Linked DNA regions of Homo sapiens: region 2 is linked to region 1. The links come from fine-mapping of genetic effects on gene expression. A gene starts in region 1. The other region holds a variant in brackets. All regions are shown on one strand. Distances are from middle to middle.

Region 1 (4,381 bases):
TGGCCGAGTGGGTGACCCAGGAACCCCGGAGGCAAAAACTACAGACTCCCCTGCCCCTCAGCACAGCACTGTGATGATGGTACCAGCAGGCCCTTTACACACACTCTTTCCCAAATTACCTGTGACTCCAGGTAATTCTGACCTGACAAGCACTCAGGCCAAGGTCTCCAGGAAAGAGAGAAGCAAAGAGAACACTCACCTGGCAGTGTTACTGCCCCGAGGCTCCAGCTGGAGCTTCCACCCAGATTCCCAACTCCACGCCCAGGAGATGCGGAGTCTGAGGCCTGAGTTAGTCCCAGGTTGCCTGATTTTGAAAGCTTTCTAGGTTTAAAGAGCCAGGTGCTGATTCACAGACCCCATATCTGCCTGTGCCTGGACAAGGAGAGTCTCCTCATTTATAGGACAGGATGGGAGCCAGTGCCACCTCCCTCCCAGGATCTTTCCCAGGAGCTGAAGCACAGCCCTGAGCCCGTCAGGTGTGGAGGAGGGTCCTCTGGTGGTGGCCGCCCTCCAGATATCTTGCTGGGAAACCTCAGAGGCCTACTCAACTGAGGCCAAGCCCACCCAGCTGTTCCCACAACAGGAGCCGGACTGCCAGGACCCACCTGGTCATGACATACGGGGCAAAGCAGATGAGGAAGGTCGCAATAGCAATGCCAATCTTCCTGGTGGCGCGGTGGCGGCGCCGCTTCTGCTGGATGAGGCAGCGCTGCCGCACACTGTGGGGACAGAGGACAGTGGTCAGGATGATGGCAGGGTGGGGACAGAACCCAGGCCCAGAGCCCAGGGGCTGAAGTGAGGGCAGACAGGAGGGTTTCAGGAGGATGTTTAGCCTGGAACCTGAGGAGGACAGAGGGATGGGGGAGAGAGAAAGAACAAGGGGTAGGCTTGCTTTTTTGTAGGTGAAATAAAGGAAGTCTGGAAAGAAGGGCCAGCTCCTCCTCCCTTCCCTCTGGCTCATCCTTCTCCACACAGAGGCAACTGAGGCAGGCTGCTGATGGAGGGGCAAGGCTGGGGCCCTCAAGGAGGGAGAAGTCACGTGGCCTGCCCACCCCAGGAGCAGGAGAGCCTCTTGGGTGTTCTGTGGGGGGCCAAGGGGGAAAGGGGAACACCTACAGGAGGTAATTTGGAACAATGGCGACACCAGCTAGAGATTCAGGAGACAAATCCTGCCAAGTAGTGAGCAGAAAGCATGGGGGATGGACCCTGCTCAAGACTTGAAGCCCAAGTCCATGCAAGGGCACTGGGTCAGCAGTGGGCAGAAACAAGCAGATGCCTCAGACCCACAGCCATGCACAGGAGGGGTGTGTCTGGCCGCCCACAGCAGAGCCCGCGGAACCCCTCCCGGAGAAGCACACCCCACAGCTCTGCGCAAAGCTCCCTGTGCACTGAGCACATATCCCAGGAGGCAGAGGCCCCCGCAGTGTCTGCACCAATGAACCAACAGGAAACCCCTGTGAGCAGCGTGCAGGGGCAGTGCTGTGGCTGGTGAACTCTGGGCGGAGTAACGGTGGTGATGCCCACAGGCTCCTCAAGCCAACTGCCCAGGGAGCGCCCAAGTCCCTGGCCTGGGCCTGTCGGCATGCACTGGGCCAATACCTGGGGTGCAGGTCGGCGAGCAGCGCGAGCGCCTTCATGGTGACGGTGTCCATGCGCTGGCAGTGTCTGCGTGCCACCCGGTGCACCTGGAGCGAGGTGAGGCAGAGCACCGCCAGCGGCAGCACGAAGCCCACGGCATGGAGCGTGGCGGTGAAGGCTGCGAAGCGCGGACGCTCAGGCTCGGGCGGCAGGCGCAGCGAACAGGACGCGAAGGCGCTGCTGTAGCCAAGCCACGAGCAGCCAAGTGCAGCGCCTGAGAAGGCCAGCGACTGTCCCCAGGCACAGCCCAGCAGCAGGCCGGCATAGCGCGGTCGCAGGCGTCCGGCGTAGCGCAGTGGGAAGCCCACTGCCAGCCACTGGTCTGCGCTCAGCGCCGCCACGCTCAGCGCCGCGTTGGACGCCAGGAAGGTGTCCAGGAAGCCAATGACTTGGCATGCGCCGGGCGCCGACGGTGTCCGCCCGCGCATCACACCGAGCAGCGTGAAGGGCATGTCCAGCGCCGCCAGCAGCAGGTGGCCCAGAGACAGATTCACCAGGAGGACGCCTGAGGCTCGAGTGCGGAGCTCAGCGCTGTAGGCGCAACAAAGCAGCACCAGTGCGTTGGATAGCAGCGCCACGGCCAGTACCATCACCAGGAGACCCGCCAGCAGCGCCTCGCCGGGGCCCATGGCGCTAGCGGCTCGCCAGGCACCCTGGGGTTCTCATGGCTCTGCTTCGGGCGCGAGCCTGGGAAAGTGAGGCGATGGAGCAGCTGAGCGGCGCGCCCACGGCTTCTGGGAGGTGCAGAGCCGGCTAGCAAGGTCCAGAGCAGCGCGAGGAAAGCGGCGGCAAGTGCAGGGTCCGGGGCACCCGGGGGGAGGGCGTAGCTCTGCGGAGCAGGAGCAGCCCGGGGCCGCCCTGGAGGCAGCGCAACCGCGGTGCTGTCCAGGGTGCTGAATGCGCTCACCGTCCCGGCAGGACTGTCCTGAGGCTGAAGCGAGGCGCAGGGGCGCGGGGCGTAGGGGCGAGGGAGGTCTCTTTCCTAACACTGTATCTTTCCTTCTTCTCTCCTCGTGGCGTGGCAGGATGGGACTCTGCGCGCTTCTGTTCCGGGCCAGGTCAGTCCCTGCCCTGGTCACACCTCCAGCCGAGCCTCCCAGCCCTGGTTCGCGCGCAGCTGACACGCCAGCAAGAGCCACTCAGTGGATCCTAGGCAGCACAGCCCTCGCCACGCCTCTCCCTCCAGGCGCTGGCACCAAACTGGAGCGACCTGGTGGCTTATAGGGGCGGTAGGGGCGGGAATGAATTGGCAAGAAGCTGTGCAGGCGGGGCAGAGGGAGTGACGGGGCGGGGAAGGGGGCGGGGGCTGCCCTCAGGACTTCCTCCCATCCCCCAGCCTCAGCCCAGGAACTGTGACTGCATCGACGTTTGTTGAAGCAAGAAGAGCGACAAGAAGTGGAAACAAGGTTGAGAAAGGCATGGGGGAAGGAAAGAGAAGAAGAAGAAAAAGTGAAGAAAAAGTGAAGAGGAAGTGGGGGGAAGAAGAGGGAAGAGGAGAGAAAAGCAACAGAGGGAGAGACAAAGAAGGGGGCACCTTGGGAGGACCCACCCAGAACTGGGTGCCATACAGAAATGCCTGTCCTTCACCTGGCTCCTGGAGCCCCGCGGTGCGAGGCCTCTCCCACCTCCGCCATCCTCTGTGGTGGCTTCTGAGCCTTCTCACCCAGTGGGAATCTTCTAATCCATTCGTGGCCACTTGGCAGGACAAGGATATGGTGAAGCCTCCTGGAAGCTGCTTCTTCCAGGAAGCTTTTTGGCATTTTCTCCCCAGTGACAGCCACAACATGACAGAAATGAAGGGCAGACGATTGCCCACCCCTCCCCACACCCACCCTCACCTGCAGGCTCTGCCAGCCCTTTCTGAGGGACAAAGGGTGGCTGGTGGTGTGGAGGCTCACCCTGTGGGCCTCTCTCGTGCCGGTGCTGCAAAGTGGCCAAGGGAAAAGCCACAGGTGCACAACTGGCATGCTGGGGCACCCCTGGTTCTGTGCCTTGGGCCTCACATTCTCATCTGTCACATGGGGATATTCATAGCCCCACTTAAACCCCTTGGGCCTCACATTCTCATCTGTCACATGGGGATATTAATAGCCAGCAATAGCATCTGCCTCTGGTGGTTGCTGTTAGGGTTAAATTGGCCAACATGCACAAAATGCTGAGGACATCCCAGCAGGCAGTGAAGGATCAGAACACAGTCAACCTTTATTAGGGGGTCCGTCTTATACCTGGGCAAAGGAAGTTTCATTCAAGTGTCTCTGCCAAGTCCCCATAACTACAAACCAGGAATGCCGAGATTCATACCTCAGTCCTTCTGGCTCTAAGTCCAATGTCCTTGTCATCCAGAGAGGCCATCACACCAGCTCCAAGCCATTGCCATCCATCAAATACAGAGGCTTTCTCTCTCCCCATTTCTCCCTGGCACTCCCACAAACCTGCTTTCAAATTTTCACCAAATTAGACCTTCCCTGAAGCTAGAGCAGCCACGTCAAAGTTTTCCTGACATGTCCAGGAAGAGTGGGCCACTCTGCAGCTTCTGCAGATCAAGCAAGTTTGCAGGTGAATAGCTGGGACAAAGTGATTGTGATAGTGGGGGCTTGAGAGCAGGGGCCTCCCCCAACCCCTCCAAGGCTTCTGAGCGACCATGTGCAGCTCTGGGGAGCGGTGGAGTCATCACGTGGCTTCACAGGGAGACTTTGGTCTAGCCACTCACAGCAGCCTCTGTCACCTCTCAACTACTCCAAAG
Region 2 (4,381 bases), 23 kb before region 1:
TTTGACTCAAGAACCTCTGTATATAATGAGGTCTCATCAAGGTCATCACTTTTGTTAAGCTCGTTTTTTATGCCTAGCCAGAATTCTTAGTTAGCATAACTCAAGAATATGAATAATATATGTTATCATTGATTCATGCAAATTTAACTGATGGTCTCTCTTCATGTTTGTGTAATAAGTCAAAGTGCACATTGGTACTTAGCTGGGAAGGTGGTTGGCCCTTGAGTGGATGAATGGATATATCAATGATGGATGGATGGATGGATGGATGGATGAATAATGGCTGGCTGGATGGCTGGATGGATAGATATATCAATGATGGATGAATGGATAGATGGATAAATCAATGATGGATGGATGAGTGAATAATGGCTGGATGAAATAATGGATAAATTGATGCATGAATGGATGGACGGATGATGGATGGGTGTGTAAATAAATGGATGGATGATGAGTGGATGGATGCATGGATGTATGAATGAATGGGTGGATGATGGATGGATGTGTAATGGCTGAATGAATAAATGGATGGATGGATGGATGGATGGATGAATAAATGAATGGACTATAGGAAGAAGAGTGGACCAGGCCCCATGGCCTTACTGGCTGTGTGACTGCAGGCAAGTCACTCCTCCTCTCTAAGCCTCGCACTTGCTCCCCTGGAAAATGATGTCTCCCTCCCCAGCTGTGTGTGGCCCAGGGACAGCCAGGGATGAGAGGAAACACCCGTGTTCCTCAGATGCCACATCCCGGGGTATAAATGACCTGGGAGCTTTCTGCGCTGGTTACCTCCCTTGGCCTTCTGCACAGGGGCACCTCTTGCCCTCAAATTCCAGTGCTGTAGGGAGAGCCTCTGCCTCCTGCCCAGAGCATGTTACAGTTGGAGAGGGAACATAGTGAGCCTTGGGGGCCAGGGTGTGGCCAGGTGGCCTCTGGCCCCTGGTAAGAGATAGAGCCTTTGGGCTCATGGTGTTCATGCTGCCCAGACCAGTAGGATGAAGACTGGCTGAGGCTGCCAGCACTGAAAAGGCCCTGAGTCCATAAACAAAGAGCAGGTGCATTTTTCAGTAACTGGTGATGACCAAGGGTCAAATGGAGGCTGCTTCTAAAATAACCGATTCTGTTTGAGTGGGGAGGCCGAGCTGGGCGGATCACTTGAGGTCAGGAGTTCGAGACTAGCCTGGCCAACATGGTGAAACCCCTGTCTCTACTAAAAATACAAAAATTGGCCTGGTGTGGTGGCCCATGCCTGGAGTCCCGGCTACTCGGGAGGCTGAGGCAGGAGAATTGCTTGAACCCAGGAGGCAGAGGTTGCAGTGAGCCGAGATCGTGCCACTGCACTCCAGCCTGGGCAACAAGAGCAAAACTCTGTCTCAAAAAAATAAAATAAAATTTCTTGTTTGTTTTATATCTTTTCAGCCACTAGATCAATGTCTCCATTATTATGAAATAACCTAGTCTGCCACCCTACATTTTGAAGTAAGATGGATATCTGGAGAAATTCTTCTTTATACATATAGTGGTTGCACATGCCCAGCGGGACGTGGCCTGCACCAAGCAGCTCCCTGAGGCCCCCAGCTCTGCCCAGGACCCCAAACACCCCACCAACTTGTGCACCCGAAGGTGGAGCGGCCCAAGCCCTTTCCCGAAACGGGGCCAGGCCAGGCTCTCCCAAGGGCACTCACTCAGCTCGTGCTGGCCGGGGCGGCTGGAGAACTCGATGACCAGCAGCTCCCTGCCGTCGAAGCTGCGCCCGATGCTGTAGGTCCTGGCCACGTGGGCGCAGCGGGAGGCCGTCCGCCTCAGCACACGCACCATCTGGGCGTAGGAGTGGTGGCTGAAGCGGATGAAGGTGGGCGGCAGCCCTGAGGGCAGTGCCTCGTCAGCCTCCAGGCCTCCTGGGGGAGCAGTGGGGGGGCTCAGTCAGTGTCAGGCCCCCAGGCTTCCTACCACTGCCTGGGAACGCTGACCACACACAGCACCCTTAGTCCCCTCTGCACGACAGCCATGCTTGGACATCTCTATCTTTAATTAGAGTTCCCTCTGCAGTGCCTACAACGATATCTAAGCCAAACGGCACCTGAGGTATGTACACAGCACAGCGCCATGGTTCCTAACGTGACTGTGAGTAAACATACTATGGGGCCACTGTGGGAAG[C/T]TCCTAAAATACGGAGCAGGACAACAGAAAGGAAGACAGATATATGGGGTCCTGGACCCCCCAAGGCAAACCCCTGCTGGGTGTGCAGAGGGGATTTTCCTGGGCGTGTTTTCCATGACAGTGGCACTCAGGCAGTTCAGTATTCTGCTTCATTTGCTTGGCTAATGGTGGAAACAGGAAGGCTCCTTGTGGTGCCCCCTCCGGCTGCTGTGAGGCTTCCCAGTGTTTCTGTTACAACCTCATCGGTACAACAGTGAGTGCCTGTCCAGGAAGGAAACAGAAAGGGGGGCTCTGGGAAGTACTTGGGGGAGGAAGAAAAAAGGGGGCTGGGGAAGAGGGAGGGGTTCTGGAACTAGAATACGAACGTCTCTACACCACATACGCACCAGCTTCCCCACCATCCTGTCATCCACTAGAACAGAGGTGCCCTGAGGGCCACCCCGATGACGCTTAGCTCCCTCCACCCCGCCAGGGGCTTTGCAGCAGTCAGGCCCACAGGAGCAGGACGCAGGTGCCCGCAGGCTGTTCCTGGGTCCACAGAGAGTTAATGTGCTCCTCTAAGCTTCTCCTTGCCCTGTGGTTTTGCTTCTGCTCAAAACGGTTCTCCAGGGGAAAGACTAGCAGAGGAAGCCGGCAATTTGGTGGTAGAGATGCCCAAAATAATCTCCAACCGACTCCTTGGGCTTTCCCAGGGCTGTGGGCTTGGCTTCCTTCCTCGCCTCCCTGGCCTCCCACAGGCAGCTCCACCACCTCTACAGGGACTGAGCTCTGCAGACAGACGGCTCCCACCTGCTGGCAAAGGGCACCCCCCCTACCGCTGCATCGCATGGGAGCCCAGGGTCCACCCTTCTCAGATTGGGAGCCAGAGGCTGCAAGACATGCCAGGTTCAGCCCTGAGCACCTGACATAGCCCGGAACCCAGGGCTTGCTGGAGCCCGGCCCGGGTGTTTGTCTGCCTTCCTTCTCCTGCCCTCCTCAATGTCCCAGCACAAAGCCACATGTACAGTGGGTGCTCGGTAGCTGTTTGACAAATGGCCAAATCCATCCCTCCATCCGCAATGGGCTTGGGCCACTCCAGCTAAAGACCCCACTGCTGTCACCCTTCCCGAGGCTCCACTTCCTCTTCCATGGAGCAAGGCTGTCGTGAGACTCGCGTGAGCTAGCACATGTGTGGCACCCGCAGTCAGATCCTCTGAACCCAACCATGAGCGGACACTGCCCTGCACAGTTGAATGTGGCACACACTGGCCCTAGGCTCTTCAAAGACAGGTTCAGACTCATTCAAATGCGATGAAACGCCCACATCCAGGCCTCAGTGGCAAGAGCCACATCCCAAGCCTTGGGGGCCACATGCGGCCAGTGGTAACTGTCTTGGACAGAACACAATAGAACATTTCTTTTACACAGAAAGGTCTAACGGGCCAGGACTGCTGCGGATCATGCAGGGTCTCTGGTGGACACCGACTCGTGAGACAACAGACACAGGGGACTCCATGCAGGGCCCCCAACCAGCCCCGCTGCCAAGTGGCCCTCTGGCACCTCTTTGCACACCTCAGAGACAAGTGGCCCATGGTGGCCCAGTCTTGCCCACTCCCCCTCCACTGTTTCATCTGCAAGAGACATCAAAGCATTTCTCCACAGCTCCTCTCCCTCCTTGAGCCCACAGGGCGGTGCAGACCCTGCTTGGAGGAGTCACTCCAAGCCAAACCCTCTGTGTGATCTTCCAGGCCCAGCGATGAGCAATCGTGAAGCTTTGCCCGCCAGACCTCCCGGGGGATGTAAATGCCCCGCCCCCCCTTGACCAGGGGTAAGCACTATGGTTCTGGAGGGTCTGTGGCTGAGGACTGGACCCCCAGGGCCAGCCCTGCACTCTGAGCCCAGGCTCCCCCACACGAGGCCTGCTCACTGCACCCTGGGCGGGGGCACTGCCCCCACTTGGACTCAGCACCCTTCCACCCCAGCCTGCCTCTAAGGGGCTGGAGACTTCTGCTAGGGGGCCCTGGGCAGCGAGAGGATCCTCCATCTGCACTGAGCCCCCGACCCTGCCTGGCACCCTTTTGTGGGGAACATGCTGCCTCGGGGAGCAGCCCCGCCCTCTACCAATGCCTGCACCGTCACTGTCGATGGAAAAGCCCTCAAGTTCCTTCCAGTGTGGCTCTTGGTCCTCCTTGACCACCTGGACCCCATGACCACACAGGCCCCCGCCACTTTCCCTTACCCCGA

Direction of the effects. Alleles are on the strand shown, and positions count from the first base shown. SD is a standard deviation of normalised expression in the study named.
For the expression in ovary of the gene that starts at base 2,858 in region 1, T is the high allele of the variant in region 2 and C is the other (moderate effect, 0.61 SD a copy in GTEx).

The links. PIP is the estimated chance that this variant, and not a neighbour inherited with it, causes the effect.
Region 2: its variant is fine-mapped to the expression of GPR78 in ovary (GTEx, PIP above 0.99).

What each region holds. Positions count from the first base shown.
Region 1 is chr4:8,578,869-8,583,249 of GRCh38, reverse strand. It overlaps GPR78 (G protein-coupled receptor 78), which reads right to left and starts at 2,858. Exons shown (of 3, transcript NM_080819.5): 1 at 1,600-2,858; 2 at 606-719. The coding sequence starts at 2,267. RefSeq lists an enhancer at 2,037-2,698.
Region 2 is chr4:8,601,493-8,605,873 of GRCh38, reverse strand. CPZ (carboxypeptidase Z) reads right to left here. Exons shown (of 11, transcript NM_001014447.3): 3 at 4,377-4,381; 4 at 1,686-1,898. It overlaps LOC124900659 (a long non-coding RNA gene), which reads left to right. Exons shown (of 3, transcript XR_007058014.1): 3 at 1-147. Among named protein-coding and RNA genes, the nearest start is that of CPZ, 11 kb to the right of the region's middle. The variant C/T (reference allele first, on the strand shown) is at 2,159.